3 separate regions of the Homo sapiens genome follow, and regions 1 and 2 are each reported to be linked to region 3. Evidence: microRNA targets listed by miRTarBase, many of them from high-throughput screens and not tested one by one. Region 3 holds a microRNA gene; each other region holds the end of a gene's coding sequence.
Evidence for each region. The annotated mature microRNA hsa-miR-3913-5p reads UUUGGGACUGAUCUUGAUGUCU and lies in region 3 at 5,449-5,470, opposite strand. An mRNA with a match to its seed (bases 2 to 7 or 8) in the 3' UTR can be bound and repressed. Matches are read on the target gene's strand: a 7mer-m8 pairs with bases 2 to 8, a 7mer-A1 pairs with bases 2 to 7 and ends in A, and an 8mer does both.

Region 1: the mRNA of ZSCAN29 is a reported target of hsa-miR-3913-5p. Seed matches in the 3' UTR shown: 7mer-A1 at 6,621-6,627 and 7mer-A1 at 6,334-6,340.
Region 2: miRTarBase lists SERAC1 as a target of hsa-miR-3913-5p. Seed matches in the 3' UTR shown: 7mer-A1 at 6,703-6,709.

What each region holds. Positions count from the first base shown.
Region 1 is chr15:43,353,771-43,364,236 of GRCh38, forward strand. ZSCAN29 (zinc finger and SCAN domain containing 29) reads right to left here. Exons shown (of 6, transcript NM_001372080.1): 5 at 10,145-10,466; 6 at 4,405-8,171. The coding sequence ends at 7,303. It overlaps MAPDA (N6-Methyl-AMP deaminase), which reads left to right. Exons shown (of 13, transcript NM_001324366.2): 13 at 1-799. Among named protein-coding and RNA genes, the nearest start is that of ZSCAN29, 12 kb to the right of the region's middle. RefSeq lists a silencer at 1,105-1,298.
Region 2 is chr6:158,103,445-158,114,870 of GRCh38, forward strand. SERAC1 (serine active site containing 1) reads right to left here. Exons shown (of 17, transcript NM_032861.4): 15 at 11,345-11,426; 16 at 10,005-10,148; 17 at 6,075-8,058. The coding sequence ends at 7,922. Among named protein-coding and RNA genes, the nearest start is that of SERAC1, 59 kb to the right of the region's middle.
Region 3 is chr12:69,578,788-69,590,213 of GRCh38, reverse strand. MIR3913-2 (microRNA 3913-2) reads right to left here and starts at 5,491; the gene lies at 5,392-5,491. CCT2 (chaperonin containing TCP1 subunit 2) reads right to left here and starts at 4,755. Exons shown (of 16, transcript NM_006431.3): 1 at 4,690-4,755; 2 at 3,870-3,944; 3 at 3,396-3,461; 4 at 2,598-2,709; 5 at 2,208-2,284; 6 at 1,952-2,064; 7 at 527-729. The coding sequence starts at 4,692. It overlaps MIR3913-1 (microRNA 3913-1), which reads left to right and starts at 5,391; the gene lies at 5,391-5,492. It overlaps FRS2 (fibroblast growth factor receptor substrate 2), which reads right to left. Exons shown (of 9, transcript NM_001278356.2): 9 at 10,421-11,426. RefSeq lists an enhancer at 4,385-4,724.

The sequences.
Region 1 (10,466 bases), not on the chromosome of region 3:
TAGAGGGTGCTGTACCTGAAGAGGGTAGAGGGTATAGGAGCTCCCTGTCCCTTCCCACATGCCTTGCTCTATCCATTTCTTCATCTCTATCCTTTGTACTGTCCTTTATAATAAACCAGTGAACCTAAGTGTTTCCCTGAGTTCTGTGAGCTTTACTAGCAAATTAAACTCAAGGAGGGGTCATGGGAACCCTGATTTATAGGTTTGGTCAGAAGCACAGGTAAAACCACCTGGGGTTTGAACTTGGCACTGGAAGTGGGCAGCAGTCTTGTGGGACTGGGCCCTCAATCTGTGGGATCAAATGCCATCTCTAGGGGATAGCATGGGAAACTGGAGGACACCTAGCTGGTATCTGCTGCAAAATTGATTGCTTGCTTGATGGTGGGGAAAAAACTCCACACATTTGGTCAGAGAAGTTTTCTGTCTTTATTGTGGTGTGAGAGCAGAGGAAAAAAGTTTGTTTTTTCCGCTCAGACTTTGTTTTAAGGAACAGGGGAGAGGGAAGTTCTGTGGTTTTTGAAGTTCTTAGATACGTGTGTGTAGCTTTGTGTGGCATTATATATAGCATTATATTATTTTCTACCCTTATCTACTCATACAGAAATTGCACAGTAAAAACATCAAAGTTTATTCATAAAATGTGGATCTATTGCAGTCACTAAAAATGTTGCAGAACAGATTTTAATGACTGAAAGTGTTCATGATAATATATTCAATGAAAATATGGTTATAAAGTTTTATAGTCCTTTTTTTGTTTAATATCTATACAAAAGCTATTGAAGTGTATGATTTTAATTTATTAGCCTTATCATGAAATTCTTTTCACACTATAAAAGTCATGCTAGTCTTAAGTGAGGGTAGGGATGGCATAAGTTTTTTTTGTTTGAGGTTCTAAAATTTATGTGGATTGGCTGATAAAGAGCATTTATGAAAAACTACAGCTAACATCAGATTTAATGGTGAAATATTGAATTAAAAAAAAATAAACACATGGGCCAGGTGTCATGGCTCACACCTGTAATCCTAGCACTTTGGGAGGCTGAGGCAAGAGGATCCTGGAGTTCCAGACTAGTCTGGGCAACATAGGGAAACCCCGTCTGCAAAAAAATATTTTTTAAAAAACTAAGCGTGGTGGCCCATGCCTGTAGTCCCAGCTATTCAGGAGACTGAAGTGGAAGGATCACTTGAGCCTGGGAGTTCGAGGCTGCAGTGAGCTGAGATTGTACCACTGCACTCCAGTCTGGGCAACAGAGTGAGTCTGTCTCAAAAAAACAACAAAACAGACTGGAGAACATAGGGAGACCCCATTGCTACAAAAAAAAAACATCCTAGCCAGGTGTGGTGGCACATGCCAGTGTTCCCAGCTACTCAACAAGCTGAGGTAGGAGGATGGCTTGGGCCCAGGAAGTCAAGGCTGTAGTGAGCCATGATCAGACCACTGTACTCCAGTCTGGGCGACAGAGTGAGACCCTGTTTCAAAAAAAAAAAAAAGTGTATATACACACACATTCACATACATAGAGAATGAAAAGCAAATGGGCAAAATATAAATAGTTGGTGAATCCAGGTATACAGGAGTTCCTTGTACTCTTGGAACTTTTTCTGTAAGTTTGAAATTATATCAAGATTAAAAGTTAAAAAAACTTTATACAGTGTATATAGATTGGAATAGACCCTCTGAAACCTTATTTCCTGGATTCCTTCAGTGATCTAGCGTTTTGGAAAATACACCTGTCCCCTACTGTTAATACCAGGTAACCCTGTACATGCGTACCATTTGCATCTTCAAAGCCCCATCCCAGGCTTACCTTACCTGGTCACCAACATAGCTGCTATTTCCACTCTCTCTGTTGCTAAGACCATATATAGCTTGTGTCTTATCTGTACCTCAAATGAACCCAGAGGTGAAGTGTTATGGGACTGACCTGGAATGCAGCTTCATTTTGCCTACACTAGTTCCACATCAAGACCACTAAGTTCATTAGAATTTGGCCCAGTCTCTGTAAGTGTTGCTTCTGCATTTATCTGTTAACAACTCTCAAATGCCAACTTTGGGCATCCAGAGATATGTGAGGCCTAAGAAATATTCAGGTGCTCGGTGACTCACAGCATGAGTTATTGGAATATAGACCTCACTGTGTAGAATGATGTGAGTGTCTTTGGTTTCTGTACTATATTTAAGAAAGATGTCAATAAAATATTTGTATATTAAATTATACTTACATAATTTGAGGAGCTCACTAATTATGGAAGACTTTAAAATTACTTCCCTGATTTATCTATTGGGTTATACAAGTTGAACTGAGTCACCTGGGAATCAATGTGTTTTTTTTTTTTTTTAATGTTCTTTTATTTTGACCGCAGCGAAGTTCTGCTCTCCAGAGCCTTTTTGAGCTCTAAGGTACATTGGACTTCTATTTCTAGTCTTTAACCTGACTTCTAGTTGTTCCAAAGTTTTGTTTCTAAAAGAGTACCGTCTTGGGTGCGGTAGGAAAGGAATAATTTAAGCTCTTAAAAAATACACACACACACACACCTGGTACTTAAAGCACCATGGTTTCAGAGAATTCTACATAACATTTTATATGTCAAAATTTTGAGACATGCATGTCATTACATAGCTATTTCAGTGTATAGGAGTAAAGTCTTCATTTTGGATTCTGAATTGAATAATGGGGAAAGAACTGATCTATCTTTACAATCTTAACTCATCTTCCCTTTCTTACCTGGTCACCGTAAAAATAGTGCTATACAGGCTGGGCGCCACCCGGTGGCTCACGCCTGTAATCCCAGCACTTTGGGAGGCCGAGGCAGGCGGATCACGAGGTCAGGAGATAGCGACCATCCTCACCAACACGGTGAAACCCCGTCTCTACTAAAAATACAAAAAAGTAGCCGGGCATGGTGGCGGGTGCCTGTAGTCCCAGCTACTCGGGAGGCTGAGGCAGCAGAATGGCGTGAACCTGGGAAATGGAGCTTGCAGTGAGCTGAGATCGTGCCACTGCACTCCAGCCTGGGTGACAGAGCGAGACTCCGTCTCAAAAAAAAAAAAAAAAAAAGTAGTGTAAAATAGTGCTATACTACATTGACAAGACTCAGAGTCTACACTCAGATTACAATAAATGAGAAATGGCAAAAACATATGTTACATTCTATGCATTGGCCATAGAGAACAAACTTAGGAAAAGTGATAGTATGGGGAAAAAGAAAAGTAATGGCACTAAGGAAACAACTGATGTGAACAGGATTATCCAGCTTCTGCTAATACACATTTTTTGCCTCCTTTGCTGCACATGCCACCCCATCTGTCTCACAAAGGCTTTAGATGTTAAGAAGTTAGAGGTGCAGAGATGCTGTTGCTCCCCCAACAGTGGGCTTGGTTTCTTTCTCAGAATGTTTGAAGGTATTTTTTGCTGCTTCCATCCTGAGGAATGGCAGGTTGGGCAGCATGTACTGCACATTCTTTTCATCTGGAGTTTGGAGGGTTGGTTCTGGGTCTGTTTTTTTTTTTTTTTTTTGAGACGGAGTCTTGCTCTGTTGCCCAGGCTAGAGTGCCGTGGCATGATCTCGGCTCACTGCAGACTCCGCCTCCTGGGTTCAAGTGATTCTCCTGCCTCAGCCTCCCGAGTAGCAGGGATTACGGGTGCCTGCCACCGCGCCTGGCTAATTTTTGTATTTTTTAGAAGAGATAAGGTTTCACCATCTTGGCCAGGCTGGTCTCGAACTCCTGACCTCATGATCCACCCGCCTCGGCCTCCCAAAGTGCTGGGATTACAGGCATAAGCCACTGTACCCAGCCAGTTTTGGGTCTTTTAAAGTAAGACTCAGCTGAGTTGGTCACTGTGGCTCATGCCTGTAATCCTAGCACTTTGGGGGGCTGAGGCAGGAGGATCACTTGAAGCTGGGAGTTCAAGACCAGCCTGGACAACGTAGACCCCTCATCAATACAAAACTTTAAAAAATTAGCTGAGTATAGTGGCTCATGCCTGTAGTCTCATCTATTGGGGAGGCTGGGGATCACTTGAGCCCAGGAATTTGAAGCTGCAGTGACCTATGATGGCACCACTGCACTCCAGCCTGGGCAACAGAGTGAGATCCTATCTCTAAAAAATAAATAAAAATTTAAAAAATAAGACTCTGCATGCCCAGTTATCTTGGGTCCTAATTTATTGTGGATATGGATAGAGGTACAAAGGAAGGATTTGCATTCTAATTTCCCTTTTACCACAATCTGACTTATTCCTCTTTCTAGAATATAAAGATTCAGATAAGCATACTTCTAGTAAACCCACACAAGGAGTTAAAAAAAGAAAGATTGGTCTTTTCCTGCCCTCCATAACTTGATCGTAATTTGTGTATATATATACACACACACACATAAACACTTCAAGAAACACCAGGCACTTTATAGACATGATTTTTATTAATATGGTATCCCTGAGAGACAGATTAGGTGTAAACATTATTTTGCTTTACAGAAAGGGAAATGGAGGCAGGTTAACTTACAAGACATCTGGAACCAGAATATCTGTTGATACCACAACCAATGCTTTTCCCACGAGACTATACATAGATATACTAAAGACAATACTTTTTTTTTTTTTTGACATTACAGCACACTTCCTAAATCATCTGAGATCCTGAGGCACTGCTTCAGACTGGTGTTTCTTGTAGCTTCCTGTCTGCTTAGGCAACATAACAGAAGTACCATCTTCCCTTAATTCCTAATAAATATTAGATTTTTTTGTACTAAGATTCAACAGCAGAATCCTAATTAATCTCTAACACAACAAGCTATGAATTATAGAATACTATATCTTCCTACTGCTCTCCCTGATCTTATTCCAGCCACAGAATTCTAATTGAATGTGAAACGGCTACTTATCCCAGTCCTTGGCCATCTGGCCATGTTTATCTTTCTTCTCACCTGCTCATCAAAATATCTTCATCAGATACTACGATTTCTGACCTTTATCTCCCATAGGAGCTAGTCCCCTAAAACTGCTTATTCTTTCAGTGGCAGTCAGCTGTTTCCTTATCAATAGTTATAGCGTAGTACCTGATTTACTATAGATGATGGTTCTACCACCTCATGGTCTGCTCCTAACACCCATGTTTCAGCTAAGGTGATTCTCTCTGCCTGCTGCACAGCCCATATCATACTATTCCTCAAGTTCTCATGCTACTCCAAGCTTTATCTGGCCTTCCTTACAGTCTATCCTTTGCCCTTTGTTCCATCTACACAAAACACCTTGCTCCCCCTTTTTCCCATTCCTCAACCCACCCAGCACTCAATTTTGCAACTAGTTATGGAAAGTTCTTCCTATCATAATTTAACCAGTAACCTTCCCTCCTTTGACCACTTCCTGCTTCATGAAGCCTTCCTGAATAAAGAGAAAAAATACCTCCCAGATTTTTGTTAAAGCAAACTAATGCATTGGACCACAACATTTATGCATAGTGTTGCTACCTAGCTTTCTAGATTTCTCTAAAACTGCCGCAACTATGCATGTGCACTTGTTTGTCCATGTCAGTGTCATCTGCTTTAGATTGTAAGGACAAGGAGAGGACCTGTTGACCTTGTGCTATACAGGGCTCATCATACTATGAGCATATGGGCAGTTAATACTATTGTATTATAAAGATGAGTAATTATATTTGCATTTAAAGAACTGCTTTTAATTGTATTCAGTTGAATGTGTATGTCTAGATTGGCAGCTCCACTGGCCAAAGATAATCCATCTTCCCTGCCATTAGGGTAAAGGGCCTGTTCGCACACAGTAGTCCATTTTCCCAATACACGGGAATGTGGCAGTGGCTTCTGCTTATTGCAGGTAAGTGCCCATGGAGGGCATAACACTATACCAGGTGTGTGGAATATGGACGAGTTCCTATTGGCAGCTTTAACTGCTCTACCTGTCACCACATGCAGCTGCGTTGCTCTGTGGAACTTCTGGACCACAAGAGACAGACGAAATTCAGATGAGACTGGACAGAAAGAAAACCAACCTAAATCCTGTAAATGTATTATTCTATTCCAACCCTTCTTCTAGGACTCAGAAGAAACTAAGAAATCCAGGGTTCACACTTCAGTATAAGGTTTTCATTGTTTCTGCATAAGAACACCTGTTCTTGACAAGATGATTCATAGGGCAGAACCAAGATGGACATTAAACTCTCCTTCTTTAAGGTAAATGAAGAGGGTGCCTGACAAATATGTCATTTTGAGCACAGGTTTAAGTGAGCAGGAAGAGTCATTCATTTTAGCATTTCCATTATTGTATAAAGAAGAGCTGGGCCGGGTGCAGTGGCTCACACCTGTAATCCCAGCACTTTGGGAGACCTAGGCAGGCAGATCATGAGGTCAATTCAAAACCAGCCTGGCCAACATGGTGAAACCCCATCTCTACTAAAAATGCAAAATTTAGCCTGGTATGGTGGCAGGTGGCTGTAATCCCAGCTACTCAGGAGGCTGAGGCAGGAAAATTGTTTGAACCCAGAAGGCAGAGGTTGCAGTGAGCTGAGATCATGCCACTGCACTCCAGCCTGGACGACAGAGTGAGACTCCATCTCGAAAAAAAAAAGCCCGGCGCAGTGGCTCATGCCTGTAATCCCAGCACTTTGGGAGGCCGAGGCAGGCAGATCACCTGAGGTCGGGAGTTTGAGACCAGCCTGCCCAACATGGAGAAACCCCATCTCTACTAAAAATATAAAATTAGCTGGGCATGGTGGCGCATGCTTGTAATTCCAGCCACTTGGGAGGCTGAGGCAGGAGAATCACTTGAACCCGGGAAGCAGAGGTTGCAGTGAGCTGAGATCGTGCCATTGCACTCCAGCCTGGGCAACAAGAGCAAAACTCCGTCTCCAAAAAAAAAAAAAAGAGCTAGACCCACCTAATGGGCAAAGTCTCATAACTTCTTCTCGAAATGTAATGGGTTTTTCCTGTCAAAATGCAGCTGAATGACAGAATGAGTAAAGAAGGATGCTTATCAAATTCATAGGATCTATTACCTTGTCCTCTGTGCTTATATTAAGGGAACACCATAGGCACTGAGAGGGAAAAGATGTTATCCATCAATTCAGATGCAGGCAAAGAGAGGGACTGAAATCTTCCTTTCATTCTTTAGACTGCCTTGGGGATTTGAGTCTAGATCAGGAAAAACAAGGAACAAACAGTGGCATAAATCCTAAAGTGAATTTCCTAAGCTAACTGGACACAGAATAGTAGATGAATCTCACTATTGGAAGACTTTCTAAACAATACATTTATTGAGCCTCTTTCCGTTATATATCCTCAGGGGCTTACTTGGGAGCTGACTGTGTCAGAAGCTTTTCCCGTGCATGGATTTCTCCGTGCTTATTAAGGGCAGAGCTTTTACTGAAGCACTTACCACAGTCATGACACCCATAGGGTTTCTCTCCTGTGTGGGTTCTATGATGTGCACGTAAGTCAGAACTCTTACTGAAACTCTTTCCACAGTCAGGACACACATGGGGTCTCTCTCCTGTGTGTATCCTCCGATGTGCACTAAAATGAGAACTGTTATTGAAGCTTTTTCCACACTCTTCACATTGATAGGGCTTTTCTCCTGTGTGGGTTCTCTGGTGAATGATAAGGCTTGAGCTCTGATTGAAGCATTTCCCACACTCACCACATTGATAAGGTTTCTCTCCTGTGTGGATTCTCCTATGGGTGATGAAATTTGAACTGTCACGGAAACTTTTTCCACAGTCAAGACATTTATAAGGTTTCTCTCCAGTGTGGATTCTCCGGTGTCTAATGAGTCGTGCACTCCGACTGAAGCTTTTCCCACAATCAGCACATTTATATGGATTTTCCACCTGGTGGGATACCTGATGCATGAGAAGGGAGTTTGGACCAAAGCTTTTGCTGTATTTGAGATATTTATAGGGTCTCTCTCCCAAGCAAGGTCTCTGTTGACTTAGGACTTCACTTAAGCTCTTCTCCGGGAGTGTCAGTTTTCCTCTTTTCTCCCCTGAGGTCTTTGCCCACTGTCTTCCTGATCTACAGTCACTCTCATTGCCTTTACCCTGATGAAGATACCGGGGAATTTTCCTTTCAGATCTTGCAAGTAATGTCCTATGCAGTTGTACTTCCTCAGAAATATCCCGTTTTGAATTATCTTCATTCTCAAATCCAGCTTCAAAACCTGATGTAAAACAGAATTTTAGAAGTTATCTATTTTCTTAATCATATGTGCCACAGGAATGTAAAACTTGGGAAAAACAAGCATTACACCACATGATTAAAATTTAGGGAGCCCTAGATCCCAAATAACTACCATTATCTTATTAAAATCCCAATGTTTTACTTCTCTACTTGTTAACCTATCATGTGCTTCTCATCTACATAGGGTCTGAATAATATATACTTTTAATTCCTCTTGGTCATCTAGGATCTTTGGAAAATCCTCCCAGTACAGCATGGAAAATCACCAGGTTTTAGATAAAATAATTTCCATGTTTCTACAGGAAAGACACTTTCTAATACGTATTTTTGCCACATCTCGGGTCTGTCATAGTATTCTTATTCATGTTCTTCACCAGTAACTAAAAGGTTTAGAAGGACATGCTCAGGAAAACATTTTTGGAAACTTTTATATCCAGAGGAGCTTCATGAGTCCCCTTCCCCTCACATTCCAATATACGTTGCAAGTAAAAACAGGATAGAAAAATATGTAGTGTCTTTCAAAGAACCAAAAGGCCCTAAGAACCAAATGCCTGGCTTTTTTGGGCCTAGGCTATGCAAATTTGCATTTATTCAGCTATTTCAGGTAAACTCTGAATCCCATATTCCCTAGACTAAATCTAGGAGTAAAAGCATGTTGAGTATCAGCCCATGTTTGTACCTCCTGAGACAGTATTTCTACCCAGAAGCCTAGTCTTATGAGATATTTCATGAAATATTCACTAGATTAAATAAATCTTAGAACCTTAAATATGTGAATATGTATTGTGAGCCTCCAACAGGGGTATTTACCATCTTCCCAAACCTATAAGTTATTTTTTAGTAGAATATATTAATACCCCATGGAATTGATATTCCAGGGAACAACATTAAAAAATGCTGATCTTAAAGACTTATGAAAATGAAAACTATTATTAAATGGCTACTATGTGCCAGGCACTGTGCACAGTACCTCATTTACATCAACCCTATGAGGTAGGTCTTAATATATAAGCAAACTTGGGGGTTAAGTAACTTTTTTTTTTTTTTCATTCGTTGCCCAGGCAGGAGTGCAATGGCACGATCTCAGCTCACTGCAACCTCTGCCTCCCAGGTTCAAGCGATTCTCCTGCCTCAGCCACCCAAGTAGCTGGGATTACAGGTGCGCGCTACCACCCCTGGCTAATTTTTTGTATTTTTAATAGAGATGGGGTTTCGCCGTGTTGGTCAGGCTGCTTTCCAACTCCCGACCTCAGGTGATCTGCCCGCCTCGGCCTCCCAAAATGCTGGGATTACAGGCATGTGCCACCATGCCCAGCCTTAAGTAACCTTCTCTAAGTCACTTAACTAATAAACAACAGAGCCCAGATTCACATACGTACACATATATGACTCTGAAATCAGAACTCTTCTCACAAGGATGGAAGCCCTTGTGAAGTATTTTTTTCTTATCTAGCAGCTAAGATTCAAAGGGTCAGTTCTCTCAGGAACCTCAGATTCATAAAAGTGAACAACAGTTATCAGATTTTCATAAATGTGAATAAAGCAGACATACAGCTGGTATATGAGCTGAAACTAGAAGAAGACATATAAAAGAGAATGAACTTTTAAAATCAACTTCATCCTACCGTGGGTACGTGACATGCTACTTGAGAAATGTGAGCTTTCAGATTCCCTGCTTAGTAAACTGGTTGGAAACCTAGTGGTTCATGAATAAATCACAGCAAATTTACAATGTGCAGCTATCTCAGATTGATGCTCTAGTGTGGGAAGTCAAGTCACATAAATAATTTATATCCCCTCAGTGAGCTGCTTTAATAGACAAGAAATATGGGTGGTCACAAGAAGAATCCATGAAAGCTGGGTGTAGAGGCCAGTTCTCAATCAGATGATATTTTTCCTAAGTCCCATTGTCTTCCCTTTGTTATTTATACCATAATAGTGAAATAATCTTACCACGGGGGCTTTGGAATAACACTGGAGCACGGGTTATGACAGCCCCTGGGGGTATCTCAGTATCCTCTTCATCATCATCAGAATCTTCCTCTGTGGCCTCGTCTGCTTCCTCAGCTTGCTTCTGAGCTTCAGCCTCACTGGTCCCCTGGACGGGGCAAGAAGCAGTCTCTTCCTGGCCATCATTGGGTGGGGCAGCAACCCGGACACTCACCAAAGCATCCATCTCTTCAAAGAAGGGACAGGTCTCTGGTGCCTGGCCATTCTTAACTTTCCGATAGCTGGTTTGCAGGCTTTTAAACTTGGTCCGACACTGTTCTGGGGT
Region 2 (11,426 bases), not on the chromosome of region 3:
GTTCCAAAGTGATGCCTTCGCCTTGCTCCTACCAAGATTCCTTAGATCTTGCTGAATAAATGTTTCACGATTTGTTGTCAGCCTTTTGGTCAATCTCTAGAGACATTGAATGATGGCTTTTGCTAATTTTGACCAGTTTAATAGATGTCTTTCTGTGGGAGAGGTTTCCCTGAGCAGCTCATACAGCTGTTCCAGAATGTAGACCTTCTGGGCTCTCCGTGTTCTGTAGCATTGGCCTGCTTGTCTATCCGTGTGCCAATACAACGTTGCCTTATTTCATTTAACTTTGTTATCTGATAAGCACTCTCACCATATTCTTTTTCTTTAAGAGTATCTTGGCTATTTTTGAGTCTTTGTATTTTTAGATCAATTTTAAAATCAATTGAAGTTTCATTTTTTAAAAACCTGTTGCAATTTTTGGGATTGCATGGAATAGAATAGACAGCTTTACGGTATTGAGTCTTCAGTCCAAGAACCCATCACATCTCTTCATTTAAGGTTTTCCTTGATGTTTCTTAGTTTTTAACTTGTAAAAAGTTTCAGACATACATTAAATCAGAGGGAATAGCCTGGACCCTCGCATATCTGTCACCTGGGATTTAACAGTAATAACCCTTTGCTATATTTGCTTTATATATTTTTCCTTTGCTGAAATATTTCAAAGCAATTCTGCTATCATACTTGATTCCTCGGTACTTTCAACGTGTATCTCCAACATTTTCTTTCATAACCTTAATGTCATTATTATATCTAACAGACAATACTTATTTTAAAATTCATTTGCTATTTTTTACTAGTATACTTACAGACTTTTTATATTGAATGCATCAGCAACCTTGCCAAACTCTCAAAATTCTAACAATTTACTGTATTTTGATACACCTAGTATACCATCAATTATCAGACACACCATTTATGTACCATCATTCTTAAGACGGCTTCCAACTAAGACTCAGTAGCTATTGTGAGATGCAGCCCAATTACAGAGATGTTCAAATATTGTGAAATGTGTCTTGGAATTGATAAAACATGGTATCTGTGGTTTTTTTGGATTTTCTATGTAAATAATCATATTAGCAAACAATGAATTTTGTTTATTCCTTTCTCATCCTTGTATCTTTGTGTCTTTTTCTTGCCTTACAGAGTTGGCTAGGACATTTAGGACGATGTTTAAAATGCTGCTGGTAGGCATTCTTGTGTTATTCCTGTTCTCAGAGGGAAGATGTTAATATTTTTACCACTAAGTATGATGTTTACTGTTGTTGTTTTTTTCTTTTAATATCCTTTATTGACAAAATTCTCTTCCTGGCTTGCTAAGTTTATCTTTTGCATGAATAGTGGTTGAATTTTATCAGATATTTTGTGTGTATTGCAATGATTATGATTTTTCCTTTTGTTTAATTTGGGGAATTACATTGATCAATTTTTCAGTGCTAAGCAAACCTTGCATTCATTCATTGCGTAACTCCAACTTGGGGAGATTATTTTACCCCCTTAAATATTGCTGGCTTTAATTTGTCAATATTTTTGCTTGGGATTTTTGCAGCTACATCCATGAGAACGGCTTGTAACTGTCCCTTTTTTATACTGTCCTTGAATGGTTTTGGTATCAGAGTTTTGTTAACCTCATAAAATGAGCTGGGGACTACACTCTTTTTCTATTAACTGGGAAAACTTGATAACATTGGAACTATTTCCTCCTTAAACTTTCGGTAGCACTCACCAGTCAAGTTCTGTCTAGGTTTGTTCTAAGCTAATTTTAATACATGAAATATAGGTCATAAATGTTCTCTGATGATTTTCAGCAGTAAGAATATACTGATAATCTCGAAGTCATAAATATGGCTAGTCCTTCCTGACCAGTAAGGAACAGTACATTGAATTCACTTGGGCCTATAGTTTGTGAGATTTTAAAACCACTTATTCTATTCCTTTTATAGGAATAGGACTATAAAAGTTTTCTATTTCATAGGCAACTTGGGTAAGCTGTATTTTCCTTGGAGTTTTCTATTAAAAATTGAGTAGTATTGGCCTGAAAGTATCTATTAATATCCTCTTATCTTGTAATGTGTGCATTGTAGTGATATTTCCTCTTCCTTCCTAACATTGGCAACTTGTGCCTCTTTTTTCACTTGATTGTGTCAGGTGGGTCTCTTATAAACACATATAGTAGGGTGTTATTTCTTATCCAGTCTGACACACTATCTTTTAACTGGGGCATTTAGCTCATTTACATTTAATGCAATTATTACTATATTTGGGTTTTCACTTGCCATGCCATTTTGTGCTTTCTCTTAGTACCATCTGTTCCTTATTTCTTTTCCCCTCTGTTTGTGCCTTAAGATTTTTTTTTTTTATTCCCCTTTTTCTTCTCTCCTAGTTTGGAATTCATTATATACACTATTTTTTGTCTATTATTGGTTATCTTAGAAACAAAATACGTATCATTAAATTCTCAAAGTCTAGTGATAATCATTGTTTTACCTTCCTCCTAAATAACACAACAACCTTGGAGCACTTAACTCCATTTACCCACCCCCAACTTATATGCTATAGTTGCTGTGTATTTTAATTTTACATATTTTAACACCCACTTGATATATTATGTTTTATAAAATTTTTATTTAATTTATCCTAGTAGTTACCTCTTTTTTCACTCCACATTCTTTCTTGAATTCCAGTGCCTCTGGCTGGATCACTTGCCTTCTGCCTTCCATTAATGAAGGTCTGCTGGCAGTAAACTCTTTTTCTTTATATAAAATGTCCATTTCATCTTAATATTTTAAGTGTTTATGATTTGTACTGGATGTATAATTCTAGATTGCAAGTGGTTTTCTTTTAGCACATTGACAATATCATTCCAGTGTCTTCTGGCTTCCATTGACTTAGGACTTCTCAACAGCAGCAATTTTAACTGTTGTTCTTTACACATTTTTCTCTAACTACTTTTAAGATCTTCCTCTTGTCTTGGCTTTTCTGCAGTGTCCCTATTCTCTGTATAGATGCAGATTTATTTTTATATGCTCTGCTTTGGATTAACTTCTTCAGTCTGTGGAATGAGCCACCACGCCCGGCCTCCTGGATGCTATTTCTATAGATAAAATAGTGGGCCAGGTATGGTGGCTCACGCCTATAATCCCAGCACTTTGGGAGGCCGATGTGGTGGGATCACCTGAGGTCAGGAGTTCGAGACCAGCCTGACCAATATGGTGAAAACCTGCCTCTACTAAAAATACAAAAATCAGCTGGGCATGGTAACACATGCCTGTCATCCCAGCTACTTGGGAGGCTGAGGCAGGAGAATTGCTTGAACCCGGAAGACGGAGGTTGCAGTGAGCCGAGATTGCACACTCCAGCCTGGGCGACAGAGCAAGACTCTGTCTCATAATAATAATAATAATTTATTTTTGCCAATAAATCATTATTATTTTCTTTGTAGCTCTTTGATCAATTAAAAACATTTCGTCTAGATTCTTTAATTGTCCTCACTGGGAGATTAGATCCAAATGATCTATCCTGCTATTACTGAAAGCAGAAGCCTGTTATTATTTTTTAAGATTCCTTTTTCACTAATATTCCATCTTATGTTGCAATAACTTGACCAGTGAGCACAGTGGCTATGATTTGGATTTTGACTTTTACAGAGCTTTCTTTTTAAAATAAATTGTGTATCAAAGTAACAAATACTCAGCTGGGTGCAGTGGCTCACGCCTGTAATCCCAGCACTTTTGGAAACGGAGGTGGGTGGATCACTTGAGGTCAGGAATTTGAGACCAGCCTGGCCAACACAGTGAAACTCCCATCTCTACTAAAAATACAAAAATTAGCCGGGTGTGGGTGGTAGGTGCCTTTAATCCCAGCTACTTGGGAGGCTGAAGCAGGAGAATCGCTTGTACCCAGGAGGCGGAGGTTGCAGCAAGCCGAGATCGCGCCATTGCACTCCAGCTTGGGCAAGAGTGAGACTCTGTCTCAAAAAAAAAAAAAAAAAAAGAAAAGAAAAGAAAAAAGTAACAAATACTCATAAAATTAAGCATTAAAATATGAAAAGTTAACCCAAAATCTACCCAGAAGTAATCATAAACATTACTTTAGAAATCTTTCTATGTGTATTATAGTGTCTGGCATTTTACTATACATATACACATAGATTTCTAGAATATATAAAACATGTTTATTAAATATAGGTTATTAAATATATATTCTAGAATACATATATTTTTAATGTTTAATATTTAGATAGTATGCTATATGTCATATGGTTTGTAAATTATGTTTAATATTAATGACATATAGTATGATGGCATACTATATGTCATTATCTAATAAACTTACCTTAGGCTAAGAAGGTAAAACTAGAACTGCACAGTATTCCCCAATTCTTGCAGGCTTGAGCATGCTGGTCCATTACCTTTGTACCCATTTCAAGGGCAACTTAGCTGAGCACACAATTCTTTCTCTCCAACATTATTGTTTTCTAACATAAGTGTTTTTGTTTTTAGGGTTTTTGTTTGCATTTTAAAGTGTGCTATTTTTATTCCCTTTTTTTTAAATGTCTGGATTGAATTAACAAGCAAATTTGTCAGGAAAGGCACATAGGTCCCTATTCCTTGAGGTGATGTTGACAATGCCTGTCTGTCTATTGCCTTTACAATTGAACAGCTTATCTATTATCTTCTAATTATTTTATTTTGCTTCTGCATCTATTGTGGTTCCATATCCATCCAGCCACCTCTCTATTGATAGAATTTTCATCCATTTCTTTTTTTTTTTTTGAGACGAAGTCTTGCTCTGTCGCCCAGGCTGGAGTGCAGTGGCGAGATCTCAGCTCACTGCAACCTCCGCCTCCTGGAGTCAAGCAATTCCCCTGCCTCAGCCTCCTGAGTAGCTGGGATTACAGGTGCGTGCCACCACACCTAATTTTTTTTTTTTTTTTTTTTTTTGTATTTTAGTAGAGACGGAGTTTCAACACGTTGGTCAGGATGGTCTCGATCTCCTGACCTTGTGATCCACCCACCTTCGCCTCCCAAAGTGCTGGGATTACAGGCGTGAGCCACCACACCCAGCCCCATTTCTATTCTTTAATGTGCTGTTTCTACTTCTGTAATTGTGCTGATTTGATTTTCAAGTGCTTTCCACCTTTTCCTTCATCACTTTTTTGTTGTTCAGGGATTATATTTTCTTTTAGAATTGCACCTTCAGCCATCATTTTATACAGATGCTCCTTGATTTACGATGGGGCTGCAACCGCATAAACCCATTGTAAGTCAAAAATGCATTTAACAATCTGATAAACCCATTGTGAACTCAAAAAATTGTGAGTTGAACCATCGTTAAGCTGGGGACCATCTGTACTTGTTTATTTTGCTTTACTGTGTTGCTTATGTGCTATACCATTTCTTTTAATCTTGCTTGTGTATAATAAATTTTATCCAGACTATTCTAATTTAGTTAAGAATACATTGGATATCTCTTCCACATCTTATTTTTAAAGCACGGCTGTATTCTATTAAAAATTTAAGAAACAGGGTTTCCATTCCATACTCTGAATTAATGAACAGTTGTTTCAACTGTGGTTTATCTGCCATGGTTCACAGAAAGCAGAACAAGAAAATTTACTAAACAGGGCCAGGTGTGGTGGCTCACGCCTGTAATCCCAGCACTATGGGAGGCCGAGGCGGGCAGATCACAAGGTCCAGAGATCGAGACCGTCCTGGCCAACATGGTGAAACCCCGTTTCTACTAAAAATACAAAAATTAGCTGGGCATGGTGGCGCGTGGCTGTATTCCCAGCTACTCAGGAGGCTGAGGCAGGAGAATCGCTTGAACCTGGGGAGGTGGAGGTTGCAGTGAGCCGAGATCGTGCCACTGCACTCCAGCCTGGTGACAGAGCGAGACTCTATCTCAAAAACAAAAAAAAAAAAAAAGAGAAAAAATGTACTAAACATATCTACCCCTTCTCCCCATGTTATCACATTGGGTAGTACATTCGTTGTTAGCAACTGTCATATTTGCTATGTCTACTACAGCAATAAATAAGTGGGTTTTGCTAGGTTGTTGTACAATGAAACAATTAATTGTTGATATCGAGTTTATTGATGAGCCATTTACCTTCAGATGCCATACTCCAGTTTTAGCTTCGACTATCTCATTCTACAAAAGTTCACCATCTTCAAAATTTAAACATAGACTTACCATTTGACCAGCAATTCCACCCAAGAGAATCAAAAACATCTATCCACACATAAATTTGTACACAAATGATCATGGTAGCATTATTTATCATAGACAAAAATGAACAGAACCTAGATGTCCATCAGCTGATGAATGGATAAAGAAACATGGCATATCATACAATGGAGTAATTTCGGCCATAAAAAGAAATGAAGTAGTACTGATACATGCTATATCATGAATGAACCTTGAAAACATGCTAATAGAAGGAAGAAGGCAGAGAGGGCCACATATTGTATGATTCCATTTACATAAAATTCCCAAATCCATAGAGACAGAAAACAGATTAGTGTTTACCGCAGGCTTGGGAAAGCAGAGGTGGGAACTGACTGCTCATGGGTATGGGGTTCTTTTGGGGATGATGAAATAGCCTGAAATTAAATAGCAATGATGTTGCACAACTCAGTGAACTATACTAAAAACCAATGAATTGAGCCTGGGAACAATGGCTCTGGCCTATAATCACAGCATTTTGGGAGGGTGGCTTGAGATCGGGAGTTTGAGACCTGGGCAACACAGTGAGACCCTGTCTCTACAAAAAAGTATTTATTTATTTTTTAATTACCCAAGTGTGGTGGCATGTGCCTGTAGTCCTAGCTGCTTGGGAGGCTGAAGCAAAAGGATCTCTTGAGCCCAGGAGTTTGAGGTTACAATGAGCTATGATCATGCCACTGCACTCCAGCTTGGGCAACAGAGTCAGACCCTGTCTCTAAACAAACAAAACAAAACAAAAATGAATTGTATAATTTAAAAGGGTGAATCTTATGGTATGTAAATTATATCTCAATAATGCTGTTACTCTAAAGAAAAAAAGGTCATCGACATGATTATCTACTACTCACATGCTATAGAGGTCAATTAATACCACTTGCAAATGAGCAAGGAAGAAGAAAGGTTTATTTAGCCAAAGAGAATCTGAGAATCTTGATACTAAGAATTGCTAATTCATATAATGGCTTAGAATAGTTTTACTTCATACTGTGATCAATAATGGATTAGCTACTTTATCCTTATCTAGGACAAATTCCAAGCATAGGCAGCTACAGTCTGAAAAGAATTATTATAAGCTAGAATTTTTCTAAGAAAAAGATTTGTTCTCAGGAATACGAAAATAGATACAAGGAACTGACCCAGACATGACAATAAGTCTAACAAAGTTAACACTAGTAATAATGTGTCAGATAAAAGGTAGAACTGAGCTAAAAACTCAAACTTTAAAAATGTACAGCAAATCAATACCCAGAAGTAAAAGAGTCTTGAATGTTCTAGTTCATTCTTCTCTCCATTTTAGGTACTCTCTTAATGGCATTTTTATGGTAAGTTGAGTTACCTCAGAACCTGCCGTGCCCCTCCTGGATGCACCAGGAAAGTCACAGATGGGAAAGGACACTCTCTCACAGCAGCTTTGCTCCAGTCACCAAGCCCAACACTGCGAACCATAAAGCAGCACACAGGGACTTCTTTACACCAAAGGGGCCCAATCCAGCCCTTCCTTCTGTGCCTGCCACTTCCGGGTTGGTGCTTTACAGCGCTTGAAGGGAGAACAATGTTCTGTAGTCTGCAACACACTCCAGACCATGTTGACGCTATGATCACTATGTTTGCATGATTGCATAGAGCTTAAAAGAAGAAACAGAACACCAAGTTTCTTGCACTGAATTCACATATGAAAACTGGAAGAGCACAACTGTTAGTTTTCAAGGTCTTTGGCTAAAGCTTCACGAATGAATTGTAAAGTACGCTGGTACAAAAAAGCATCCTTTTTCTTTGGCTTACAAATGTTCAAATGGTTAACATCCACAGGAATTAGATCTCCAATGCCTAAATCTGAAGAAAATAAAAAAGTCAATAAACCTAAGTAAAAATATAAGCTTTCCCCTTGACAATACTGAAAGAGGCCGAATGGGTAGTTCTAGACATTGCTTTGGTTGTGACAAGGGACTCTTAAAAGATAAAGGAACCTGAAGTTTGATTGCAGCTAAACTACATTTGATGAAACATGCAGGAAGGGATTCTCAGTCAGTAGAACCATAGTTTTATGCTTTCCATGAACTTTTCGTATGTGTTCTGGCCTACTTCCTTATTTCAGAGCAAGCAGAGATTGAGCACTAACATATTCAAAACCTTCTTACACCTGCAGGTTATTGCTAAGTTACTTCAGAGTTTCTATTATAAACTTCCTTTCTCCTGGTGAAATGAATGGGAATGTCTCACATGGGATCCATTCTATACCTAAATCCCAATAATCACTTTCAGGGTAAAAATGATTTAGTGCTTGAGATATTTCGGTCTAACAAAGTCCCCTCGCACGGAAGTGATAAGAGGTACTAGTGAGGCCACCTAGGTGAGGAATGCAGGTGGTGGTTATGAAGGAAGAAAAGCCTCTTGGTGACAGAATTAGGGCAAGGCTATGCCACTCCAAGCAGCTGGTCCATGATATTAACTTTGCTTTTGGGCGAGGCACAGTGGCTCACACCAGTAATCCCAGCACTTTGGGAGGCCAACGCAGGAGGACTGCTTGAGGCCAGGAATTTGAGACCAGCCTGGGCAACACAGCAAGACCCCATTTATACAAAAAATTTAAAAATTTAGACAGGTGTGGTGGTGTGCGCCTGTGGTCCCAGCTACTCAGGAGGCTGAAGTGGGAGGAACGCTTGAGCCCAGGAGTTCGAGGCTGCAATGAGCTATGATTATACCACTGAACTCCAGCCTGGATGACAAAGTGAGACCCTGTCTCTTAAAAACAAAAACAAAAAACTATGCTGTTGCTTCAAGCTTCCAAAGTCCTTTTTAAAAACATCTGGCAGCTGTTCTTTGGAACTCTTCAAGTTCTTCAACTACTAAATAGTAACTCCTCAACCTACAGCATATTACTTTAAGGTAAAATTTTTCAGTTCTACTACACAGTATGACATTTTTCATTTTATGTAGATAGCATATAATGAAATTAGGACAAAACTCATTATGTAGACAAAAGAACCATCTGGCAAGCACTCCAGATGCATGCTGTCCCTAGCCTGAAGGACCCACAATGTGGCTGGCTACCACCAGAACAGCACCTAAGCCAGCCTCAGAGGCAGTAAGAAAGGGGTTCCCAGAGATAACAGGCAAGCTGAAGACATGGCCAGGTGAGGCAAAAGCAGTTCAGGTGGTGAAATGTACAGGGTATCTAGTATGTACAGAGTAACAGAGGAGTCTATGAAGAGAGTTAATTAAGATCTGGGCTCCTCCCTCAAAGAATCTATAATACATTATATGACACTAGAGAGCAAGCACTGGCCATTTCCCTCAACCCCAGGATCATGAAGAGATTGTAGTTCAACACTAGTTTTTCCCACTGGAATATTTCTGGAGCTTTACTATTCCCCATGGATCTTCTATTTACGAAAGCTTCCACACTTTTAGATGATTTTCTTAAGGGTTCTGCATGTAAATATAAGTCTAAGTCTATTAAATAAATGCCCCTTTTGATCTAGCTGATAGAAGAGCTTTCTTTACTGCAAAAGAGTTCACTGTTGATGCCTAACTTAGAGTTAGCCAATTAACCCTTCTCATCTAATCAGTTACATAAAGGGCAGGGAGAGGTAATACCCGGGTTATATGTTTACAGAGAAATTTTAATCTATTGCTGAAAAGAATAAAAGAAATCAAATCTAGACCTTCATAAACTATCTCTTAAAACTGAGAACCTGGATATAAAAATTGCTGTTTACAAGTAAATGCTAGGTATAATTAAGCATCTAACAGCCAACAAGTTTCAAAAGAGTGAATACCTGCTGATTCCACAGGTACCACATGGAGCTTAATCATGCTGCCAATGTAGGTTGGTAGTGTTTCCACAAAATTCAGCACCTGGAAGTTTTTGTCTTTAGCAAACTCCAGAAAGTCATCTTGTAGTGTTTTAAGTGCAGGAGAATCTGTAAAATTATACAGAACAAGACTGTGACAAGTTGTTTACCCAATTCATAATAAAATGCATTAATCTTTCAAATTTAGAGAGGAAATTAGAATTCTGATTCAAGACGGTGGCTTGAGTACACATGTTTATTTTCTCCCCTGCCAAGAAGCCACTAAGATTCAAGGAAAAAGCTAAAACCAAGAATCGACAGGACAGTCAGCAGCAGGAGAGGGTTTATCACATTACTGGGGGCAGGAAGCAGTTCCCAGGGCAGTCTGGTGTGTGGGACCACAGGGGTCCTCCAGTGTGATGATGGCACCACAACACCCACCCCAAAGCCCAGCCTCCCACCAACAAAGCCTGTCTACAATCACAGAATGCCTGTCCCTTCCCATCCCTCACCCTCACATATGAAAGAGCAACCAAGAGGCACCAGATAGGCCTATGACCTAAAAGAGATGGATCAGATAAGCAAACAGAAAAGCTGGCCACAGAAAAAAAACAGCTAGATGAGGAGTAGAAGGGAACTCACAAACCTTCTACTTAGGATCTTTAGAATTATTTGAAAAGATAAAGGAGCCACAAAACAAGAAGAGGACATGAGTGCAGAACCACCAGGGCACAGGAAAGAAGGCACGTACGGAAAACACAATCTGACTCCACGAAAGGAAAGTCCAACAGAAGGTTTAGAAGAAATCAAGAGATTCTCCATAAAGTAGAACAAAGAGAAAATAGGAGCAAAAAGACACCTGGTATATTTAGGCTCGAGCCAGGGAATCCAAATTCCGATTAACAGGTGTTCCAGAGAGAAAACTGCTTATCAAACCAGAGTACTTTAAAATTAATACTAACAATCTCAAAGTTTCATTTACATTTTAACAGTTGATGATTCTCCACTCATGGGGGAAAAAAGCCATTTATTGGTAATTTGGAATAATACTTAAAAGCAAAACATTATCTGATTATTTTTCTAATTTTAAGTATTTAAGATAATATTAAAATTATTACAATGCTTGAGTAAATAATGGCTTAAGAACAAAATGAGAAATTATCAAAGAAAAATCAAGCCCAACCCAAAATTTCCATGAATAGTCTAAACACAATTATATACAAATTATAAAATGAGATAATACATTCAAGGAAGAAACTTTTTCTTCTTCTCTGTGTAACTGATGTTAATATAACCCCAATTTCCTTTATGACAAAAAGTATTACCCTTGCTGAGTTCTTTGACTTCCAACGAGGGGAAGAGAAGATAGCGAATATTAACAGAGTATTCAGCCAAACGTGATCCATG
Region 3 (11,426 bases):
TACATGGGTTTCAAATCCTGCAAATACTGCATTTTCCATCCACGTTCGGTTGCACATGTGCAAACCACGGACACAAAGGGCTGACTATATTTATTGAAAAAACCTGCATTGTGAACCTACATAATTCAAACCCATGTTGTTCAATGGTCAACTGTACATCCTCAACAACCAGCTAACACAATGATTTGACTGACCCAGACCCTTCCTGGAGAATACATATAATCCTGGTAAAAGTACCATTTGAGAATAGATGATTTCTAGTAAAAGAAAACATTTCCTCTTTATCAGAGACTGCAAATAACTTCATGGTAGTTAAGTAAACTCTAGAGATCATCAACAATGCTGGAATAGCGCGGGAAGAGGAGTACACTGTCAATAAAATGACAAAAATGGTTGCACATATGATATGTCCTTAAATTCAAGTTCACTGGCTTTGTAAAGGGTCACTGGTCTCAAAACAGAATTCACTCAGTATTCAGCCCTCAGCATCTAATCAAAGCTTCTTGTATCTGACATTCATACATACCTTCATCTAAATAGGAATCTGCCAAACTTCCTCCTAGCTTCTTGATAATATGAATTGCCTCCAGGTTGCCAGAGCCTTTCAGTCTGAGAACTGCTTCTACAGCTAACTTTGTAAAGTGGTCTTTGTGATGAGTAAGAAGTTTTGAGGATAATGTTGTGCCCGCAATATTCATTAAATCTTGACGGAATTTAACTTCATCGGAACTAAATAAAACCAACCAAATATACATATTAACCCTACTTTACTTTTCAAAATTTATCTAGATATTCATGTCAATAGATAATTTTACCCTAACTGATCAAGTCTGTAAGCTATATGAAAAGAATTAAACCTCAGCAGTAATCAAGAAACACAAATTAAAGATGTTATTTTCCCCACCAAACTGGCAAAATGCCAAAAAAAAAAGAGGGGTGGGGGCCACACAAGCATGCAAAAGTCTAATGTTGGCAAGAATGTGAGAAATGGCCGGGCACAGTGGCTCACGCCTGTAATCCTAGCACTTTGGGAGACTGAGGAGGATGGATCACTTGAGGTCAGTTCAAGACCAGCCTGAGCAACATGGTGAAACCCCATCTACACTAAAAATACAAAATTAGCTGGCTATGATGGCACATGCCTGTAGTCCCTGCTACTTGGGAGGCTGAGGCAAGAGAATCGCTTGAACCCGGGAGGCAGAGGTTGCAGTCAGCCGAAGTCGTGCCACTGCACTCCATTCTGGGCAACTCTAAGAGCGAGACTCCGTCTCAAAATAAATAAATAAATAAAAGGACGTGAAAAACAAGTATTATTATACAGTTGTGAATGGGCAAATAAATAGAAGTGCCTTAAAACAGTGGTCCCGGACCTTTTTGGCACCAGGGACTGGTTTCATGGGAAGACAATTTTTCCACCTGCTGCTCACCTGCTGTGCAGCCCAGGTTTGGGGGTGCCTTAAAACACACACACTTACCTTTGGACCCAACAATTACACTTCTAGAAACCTTTGGGCTATGTCGCAACGTCACAAAGTTATTTTATAATGCTAAAAATCATCAAATACACAAATCTCCCCCTACAGATAGGTTAATACAGTCATTCTAGCCAAATATTCAAATGTGTAACTCTATTAAAATACTGCACAGAAAATTGACATCCAAAAATGTGCTTAATATTTAACTAGGTTAAAAAGAGGCTAACAAATTCTCTATACAGTATTATACTATTTGCTTTATTTGTATATTTTGATGATATATACAAAAAGACTAAAAACCCAAACTTAACTTTAGTGGCTATCTCTGGAGGCTGATGTAGGTTTGACTGTTGGAGTGGGGTGAGGCAGCAAGATGATCTTTGTGTATGCTTTTCAGTGTCCTATAGATTTCTTGCATTAAGCATGTTATGAAAGAACACTAAATGTTTAGAACAGTAGTACTTTGCTATACAAACCCATGATCAACTGCAGAACTCAACAGCGCCTCTCTTGCAGCCTTCGTGGCTTCTCTCCAACCCGCTATGATGGTCTGTGGATGAATCTTTTTTGCAATTAAAGATTCTGCTTCCTATTAATAAAGTTATAAAACAAAAGTTATAAATAGAAAATTATTAAGCACTCCTCAATAGTAAAGACAGAGGAAGTAAGGACTAGATTACCTCTGATACTCAAAAACACAGTAGGAAAAAAGAGTTGCTTAGTTGCTCTTACCCTTAATAATTCTGCTGCTAAAACGGTAACAGAGGTAGTGCCATCACCAACTTCATCATCTTGAACCCTTGACATATCTAGAAAAAGAAATTAGTTATTAACTCAAAATTGCTTCTTTGCTTACTAAATTCTCCAAAAATATTCACTACCAATCTAAACTTACCAGGGTTCCTCATTCAACAAATTATTTGGAACTCTGAGGTCTGAAATGCAACAGTTTTACCACCAACATACGGGCACTCCTGAAGCTTGTATTTTAACAACGATAATTAACAACTAGTGGACATCAATTGACAGTACGATTGGTCAACACAGCCTATTTATAAAGTTATTTCAAAAATGTTAACAAACAGTATTATTAGGTTGGTGAAAAAGTATATTCAGACTTACCAACTAAAACTTTAGCTGCTGGATTGTCAACACCAATGTTTTTTAGAATAGTGGCACCATCATTGGTTACCATAAGAGAGGCATCTCGTCCACTGCTTAGAAGAATTTTGTCCTAAAGGGAACATAATTGGTTCAAGTTAAGACATAAGCACATCTTGAAGAATGCATGGATCAATCAGTATTCTCACACAGTGCTAGTGTATAAACACTCTGGATAGCTATTTTGTGGTATCCATTCATCAAATGTTTTCAATACATACACCACGTAACCAAACCATGTATCTACCCCTAGAAACACTAGAAGCACAGGTAGACACTAGTTTTTGTTTCAACACCGTAACTGCAAAAACAATGGAAAGAAACTATCAATACAGCCATAATTAAATTATAAAATAATTAAGGTACAGGATAATATTTGACAGTTAAAGGGGCAGTGTTATCTACTTACACTGAAAGGAATTTAAAAGAGCAAGCTACAAAAAAGTATTGATAAATAGTATCTGTTTTATAAAACAGTATGTTACATGAGTATAAAATACATAATGAAGTACACATACTTCTACATAAACAGAATATTAGAAGATGTACGTGCAAATGATAACAGTACTTGTCATTGGGGAGGGGCATGGGATTGGGGATGGTGATTCTGGGGACTCTGATTTTTACTAAGGAGAACATACTTGTCTTTTATAATTAAACGTTTTAAAGATTAAAAAGCATTTTAATACGCTTGTTATTATATTTCCACCAAGCGCTCTAAAACAATATTAAAATATAAAACTTTTCTATTTTTCTTACCATGCCTTTGGGTCCCAAGGTGCTCTTTACCAAGTCTCCAATGGCGATGGCACCAATAAAAGAAGTCTGGAGTAAAAACCAAGGAGATTATCAGAATCAACTTTACAGTCTTCAAGTACAGTTTTATCTTTATTTACTTTTTTTTTTTTTTGAGGCAGAGTGTCGCTCTGTCGCCCAGGCTGGAGTGCAATGGCGCGATCTCAGCTCACTGCAACCTCCGCCTCCTGGGTTCAAGCGATCCTCCTGCCTCAGCCTCCCGAGTAGCTGGGATTACAGGTGCCCATCACCACGCCCGGCTAATTTTTGTATTTCTAGTAGAAACGGGGTTTTACCATGTTGGCCAGGCTGGTCTCGAACTCCTGACCTCAGTTCATCCGCCTACCTCGGCCTCCCAAAGTACTGGGATTACAGGAGTAAGCCACCGCGCCTGGCCTCCAGTTTTATCTTTAAAACAATGCTTAGAACAAGGCTTACCAGACGAGCTGTCTCTGCTCTCTCTTCATCAGCTCCTGCCTTAAAGATGTTAACAGGTGCAAGGGAAAGGGACGCCTGAAAAGGAAAACCAAGAGGCATTCCGTTTAAGTACCAATACTCTAACACATACACTGAGGTGCCTTCCACTAGTCTTACAAGTGGACATCTAAGAGAAAACTCATTTACAACAATGTTTTCAATCAAATGAAGCTTCCATCATCGGAGAAAGCATTTAAGTGGGAGAGAGGGACTTGTAGGAGAGCGACATGGCTTTTCGGATTTACAAGGCCCCCGGGAGTATAAATTATACACCAGCGAGATTGACAGTTACGTACAGCGAGACTAAAGACGATCTTGAACTAAGAATGAGGCAGGGAGGGGTTGCAGGCCATCAAGGTGACGCCTGCCGGGCGGGCGAGGGAACGCGGCCTCCATCTTCCACCCTCGGAAGGCTGCGGCCCCTCCACCCTCTGATGGCTCAGACCCCGTCGCTCCAGGCTCCGCCCCTAGAAGGAGGGCGGAGCGGGTCCCACACTAGAAATTTCTTCGCTCCGGGTGAGGCGCGGACCTGGGCTGCCGGGACTATGCAAAGACCTAGGCACAAGGAGACGCTGGCTTTGCGGTCCACCCCTCCCCCTCGTGGTGAGCTCCACCGGCTGGCCTGGCGCAGGCCGCACGCCCCGCGCATGGCTCGCACCATGTGCGGAGGGCCGGGGAGACAGAAACGGAGCCTACGACCCTAGCAGGACAGAGGAAGCAGTGGGGTGGCAAGAGCACGGCGGAGCAGGGGTAGGGCAAGAGGCAGGGGAGTCAGGCTCACCATGGTTCCGAGGAGTTCCGCACACAAGTGAATCCCCTCACAGCTCGTGCTCGGGACCAGCGGACTGAAGGAAGCCGGAAGTGACGCCACACGCCCTACTTCGGGGGGCGGGGCCCCGGCCTGTCGTTACCGCCAGCAGGCGTCCCATTTTGATTGGAGCCCCACGGGCCGGAAACGCAGCCTTTCACACTGGAGGGGGCGTGGCCGCCGCTCCAGAACAAAGAGGCGGCTGCCGCGCGGGTTGCCATAGAAATGGAGTTCTTGCTCACACTTTTTATTTTCTTAAATTTAATCTTTAAACACTTCTATTAAAGTCACACATGTACACAGTTTAAAGTGTTATATACCAATAAGGAAAAACATAATTTATCTGCCTCACCACTTCCTGTCTCCAGGAAAACTGCTTTCAACTTTTTCAGTTTTTTGGAGGGGCTATTTACTATCATATTCCCAGATAATATTATTGCTATGTTAATTTTAAACATTATTTACTGAGTATTACAGAAGAAGACTTCCTTTTCTCTTACTGAATTTTCAGACGTTATTTCTAACTGGACGTTGACTGCCCAGGATAAGGTCTTGTGAACTGAGAGAGACATTTATAGTATTTTATCTTTGCCCTATTTACTCATTTTCAGGAATTTTTGCATTTCGGTCTTTTTTTTTTTTTTCCTCCAATAGTAGAGACGACTTATTAGTCTTTGTTTATAATAAACTGAAATATTTGGGACTGATCTTGATGTCTGCCAAAACCTTGGCAGACATCAAGATCAGTCCCAAATATTTCAGTTTATTATAGACAGTTTTCTACTTTCTCTAAGTTGACGGATGTCTAAAAATTTGTTCTCTAAAAAATTTTTCTGTCATCTACTGATACCCTCTTTTCTCCCTTTGACTAACTGATCGCTTAAGCTCCTCGGCAGGGCGCGGTGGCTCACCCCTGTAATCCCAGCACTTTGGGAGGCCGAGGTGGGCGGATCACCTGAGGTCAGGAGTTGGAGACCAGCCTGGCCAACATGGTGAAACCCTGTCTCTACTGAAAATACAAAAATTAGCCGGGCGTGGTGTGCATGCCCGTAATCCCAGCTACTCAGGAGGCTGAGGCAGGATAATTGCTTGAACCCGGGAGGCAGAGGTTTCAGTGAGCCGAGATCACGCCGCTGCACTCCAGCCTGGGCAACAGAGCGAGACTCTGTCTCAAAACAAAAACAAAACAAAACAAGCTCCTGGATTTTTCTTTTTCTGTTTTGTTTTTTTTAGAGATGGGGTCTTCTATGTTGCCCAGGCTGGCCTGGAACTCCTGGGCTCAAGCAATCTTCCTGCCTTGGTCTCCTGAGTAGCTGGGGTCTCCTGGATTTTTGACATTGCTAACATTAACAGGAATTTTCAATTTTTTAGTTGTTTCTACCCTTCAGATTTCCTCTAAGTGGGTTGATTTCCACCAGGGGTTGGCAAGCTGTGAGGAGTCAAACCCAGCCTGCCAGTTGTTTTTTGTATGGCCTGAGAGCTAAGAATAGTTTTTACATTTTTAAGTGGTTGAAAGAAATCAAAAATTTCCTGACACATGAAAATCCTGTGAAATTAATATTTCAGTGTCCATAAAGCTTCATTGGAATCCATGGGCATACCCATACATATTTACTCTGTCACAATACGATAGCAGAGTTATGTGGCAGAGTTGAGTAGTCATGACAGGTTGAATGGGCCCACAAAACCTAAAACATGTATTATCTAATTCTTTACAGAAAAAGTTTGCTGACCCTGGTTTACAGTATTCCTCAGGTCCAACATGAAAAGGGGAGTTCAGGCTGGACAAATTGTTATTTTAAATCTCCCAAGAGTTTTCTCTTCTTTGTAGGAAAATTTGGTCTTCTTTCAGGAAATGTACTTTCCTAGGCAGATCCCAAATCGCATTCTGGAATGAGAAGATTCACAATAAAAAACTAAGATGCCTGCACAATATTGAAAAAGGTTGTTTTTATTGTGGGCAAAATTACATACCTGGAGATATTTATTATGTCCTCTGGTAGGCAAGCCTGAGACTGTGTGTGATGGGGAAACCAATGACTGCTCCCTGCTGGGCTTTGAATGTAGCCAGAGGCATTTGGATGGGGAGAAGGAGGCAGGCCCTGCCACCTTGTGGAACTGAGGCTAGAGGCAGCCAGGAAGAGACTCTATGATGGGACCCTTGGAAATGTGTCCTTTCTCCATTGCATCTTTTGACCCTTCCTTCTTTCCTACTTCCCCCTCCTTTGATGACACCTCTACACCTAGAGGCTAAACACTCAGCTTCTAGACCCAGACTATATGAGTTTGAATTTCAACCATTTTACGTACTAGCTTTGTAGTCTTGGGTGGGTTTCACAGGCTCTTTAAATCAGTTCATTGAAGGCCATTCAGAGCGTGATCAATGTGCTGGTTTACCAAAAACTGTCTCTTTTAGCTGTTTATACTTTTTTGTTGTTGTTGTTGTTGTTGAAACAGAGTTTCACTCTGTCGCTCGGGCTGGAGTGCAGTGGTATGATCTCAACTCACTGCAACCTCCGCCTCCCGGGTTCAAGCAATTCTCCTGCCTCAGCCTCCCAAATAGCTGGGACTACAGGCATGCACCACCACAGCTGGCTAATTTTTGTATTTTTAGTAGAGACAGGGTTTAACCATGTTGGCCAGGGTGGTCTCGAACTTCTGACCTCAAGCAATCTGCCCACCTCAGTCTCCCAAAGTGCTGGGATTACAGGCATGAGCCACCACACCTATATATATATTTTTTAATTGAGACAGGGTCTTACTCTGTCACCCAGGCAGGAGTGCAGTGGTGTGATCTCCACTCACTGCAACCTCTGCCTCCTGACTTCAAGCGATCCTCCGACCTGTCTCCCGAGTAGCTGGAAATACAGGCATGCGCCACCACACCAGCTAATTTTTTGTATTTTTGGTGGAGACGGGATTTTGCCATGTTTCTCAGGCTGGTCTTGAACTCCTGAATTCATGCGATCTGCCCACCTTGGCCTCCCAAAGTGCTGGAATTACAGGCAGAAGCCACTGTGCCCATCTATTTATACATTTTATCGTAATTTGTATTAGATAGGTTACAGGGCCTATGGAGATAGTGAGACCTTGGGAATCCATGTTTCTGTGATTAAACACGTTGTGTGACTTTCTCCTGGCTCATCTTCTGTCCTCTACTCTCAAGTCCCTTGGTCTTGGCTTCTCTTAGTTAACCCTTCCTCCTCCCTCAAAGTCTTTGTGACCCTCTCCTCTCTATGACCCTGTGTCCTCCTCTCTCTTCCCCTTGGTATAATTTGGCTTTCAGTGAATTGGCTTTTTGTTAACTGGTCAGCTTCCAGTTATATAATCTCTCTGTGCCTCAATTTCCCTTTGTGTAAAATGGAGATAATTATCACAGATTAAATAGCTTAGAACAGTGCCTGTTTAGCTTAGCTATTGTTATCATTATATCCCAAGTCTTCTAATAGGCTTTATAAATATAGTAGCCGAGGTTGGATATGCTTGGCATGTTATGGAAGTAGGAAAGCACTGTAGCATATCATTATTTGATGGCTAGAGGTGATTTGGGAGCAAGGGTAGATTCATTAACTGGAGTGAAATAACTGGCGAAGTGGCAAACAACCACCAGAACAGAGTTATGGGACTTGTCAACATTCCTCAGGAACAGTTAGAATACCTGGGGAAGGAAACCAAATAAAGGACCAGGAGTCCACAGTCACATTAAGTTGGGTCCACCCAGACACCTACTGTTTGGGTAGTAGGGAGAAGGTTAGAAGACTTGATATTTCTCCTGTTGCAGACCGTGATAGTTTGTACACAGGAATCAGTCTGTGGAGCACACTTAGAGGAGCACTTTAAAAAAAAAAAAAACAGGGTCTCATTATGTTGCCCAGGCTGGACCACAGTGGCAGGATCACAGTTCATTGCAGCCTCAACCTCCCAGGCTTAATCTATCCTCCTGCCTCAGTCTCTTGAGTAGCTGGGACTACAAGCACACACCACCACGCCAGTTGATTTTTGTATTTTTTCATAGAAACAGGTTTTCACCATGTTGCCCAGGCTGGTCTCAAACTTCTGGGCTGAAGTGATCCACCCTCCACAGCCTCCCAAAGTGCTGGGATTACGGGCATGAGCCACCATGCCCAGCCCCCAAATATATCTTAAATCTCAATGAACTGACACCATCAACCATCTCAGTCACCCAAACCAGATAACTGGGGGTCATCCTTGACCCCTCCATTTCTGTCATTCCCCTTATCAATCAGAGGTGTTAATTCTTCCTCCTTTAGGCCCTCTATTACATTGGTGGCCCTGAATAAACTACACTTTTGATGTTCATGCTTTTATATGAGCCACTGTAATTCAACAAAATACAACAGAATTGACATTGTGCCAGTTCTGGGCTTAGGCCTCAAGAAAGCCTAGCAGCATCTACTTTTGTGCTCTTGGGAACCCTAAGCTGCCATGTAAGAAGACCACATGAAGAAAGACCCAAGACTTCATGGAAGAAAACTAAGGAACACAGCTGAGAGCTTTAAGTTCCAGACATAACCTAGTGGAACTGGTCCAGCCAGCCCTCAGCTGCTTGAATCATACTAGCATAGGCACAAAGCATATGAGGAAGCCAGGCCTCCAGACATCATGTGAGATGAGCCATCTCTGCTGTGCCCTGCCCATCTCGATCTATAGCAACTTGAGACATTAAATGATTGCTGCTTTAAGCCACTAACTTTTAGGGTGGTTTGTTGCACAGCAGTAAACAATCTAAACAGTCCTTTAACAATGCCTTTGAATACGGATTTATCAGATCTGGCTCCATTTCTGAAAAAGCCTCTCAACCAGTCTCCCTGCTTTATTAAAATACCGTAGGGCCAGCTACTTGGGAGGCAGAGCCAGGAGAATGGCATGAACCTGGGAGGGGGAGCTTGCAGTGAGCCGAGATGGCGCCACTGCACTCCATCCAGCCTGGGCAACAGGGAGAGACTCCGTCTCAAAAAAAAAAAAAAAAAAAAAAAAAAAAATACTGCGCCCTTCACGTATCCATGTTGTCAGAGAAATCTTTCTAAACTATTATTTTTCTGGTGTTTAAAATCCTTCAAGTTCTCTCACCTAATTTAAACAAAAGCTCCTTAGGATTCTGTGATCTGTTTCTCATTTCTCCTTTCTTCTGTATCCCCCAACCCTGCCTTTGCTCTCCATGCGCTTAGTCATTTGGAACCTCTTGCAACCACTGAATGTCATGATCTTTCTATACCTCTGTGCCTTTGCACATGCTATCCCTTCTCCCTAAGACATCCTCTCTAAGCTACAAAGACTTTCAACAAACCACCTCAGGGATCACCCCCTCTAAGAAGCTTTGCTTGAAAACCTCCACCCCTAGGCTGAGTTGGATGCCCTTCCTTTGTGTGTGTCTTTATCATGCCAGTTACATCAATCACTTGTGGACATGTCCATCTCCTTCATTGTTTAAATAATTTCCATCTTGACCTGTACTCAACTAAGGCTTTGCAATGTCACTCAGTGGCTAAAAACAGGTTTGAAGTCCCAGAGCTGAGAACTACTATTTGGAATGATCACACAGCTAAAACTGTGAGAAAGCCTGTCATATAGTTACAATTTCATTTTGATATCTTCATTTTGAAAATGGAGGCAGTGATATGAGACTAGGAAAGAAAATGTCACAAAGTTTCAAGTAGTATGTGAAATATAAATACAATAAAACTTTTAAGTAGATATCCGACCAAACGTTTTATTGGGGTTTTATTGCAATCTACTTTCAGCAATAAGGGGAAAGTGAGCATGAAAAGAACTCCAATCAGACTTTATTCAATAAAGCAGCTTTTCATGAATGCTTCAGGTCAGTGTATGATCAGCTCAGCTTCCAGTATCAACTTGAGTACCTCATTATGGATATTTATGCTAGAATGACAACAGTAAGGCATTGCAAAATCCAAAGTCATCTAATATTAAACCATATTTTACATAATTTGTAGGACAGTATACTAATACTCTACAATAAATAAGGATTTAAAAATGTGTTGCTTAGCCCTTGAACTAAATTCAATTACTAGCTTATTCTAAGTACTCCAGTTAATAAACGTTTGATTGTAAAGAACTCTGACTTCTCCAAAGATAAAAAAAATTAGTTGTCATGACAAAAATTAAGCTTAAAAAGCACATTCACACTTGTCCTTAAAAGCAAGTTTACATCATATATGAGAAAACTTTTCATGCCTGATGACATGGCTTATATGGCAAAAAACAGTCATATGCAAAGGACAACTAGAGGGCAATCGTCCCATCCCCACTTCCTCCAAAAAGCCACACTCGGCCTCAGTGTAAAAGTTATATTTTATTGCCATGCTACAAAATGTATGAAGTTGGCACTGATAGGGAGAAATAGAGAACAAAGGGTGGGAAGGGATAGAGGGAAAATTATGTTGTTACATATACAACAAGGTTTTATTTTAATTAACAGTGGTTACGTTTTGCCAATATTAAAAATGCAAACCAAAATTTAAAATGCTGATCTGAAACAGCATTAAGATACAATGTATGCATAGTACAGTATCACTTATGTCTTTTTATTAGAGAAATATGGAATGTTTATAAAAGAAATTAACCATGGGGGTAAAATTCATATTTCATATACAATTTGGCAATGGTAGTCCCACTGTTGGACAATTTTTTATAAAAGAAAAAATTAAAAATCTAATAAGCTACCTTTA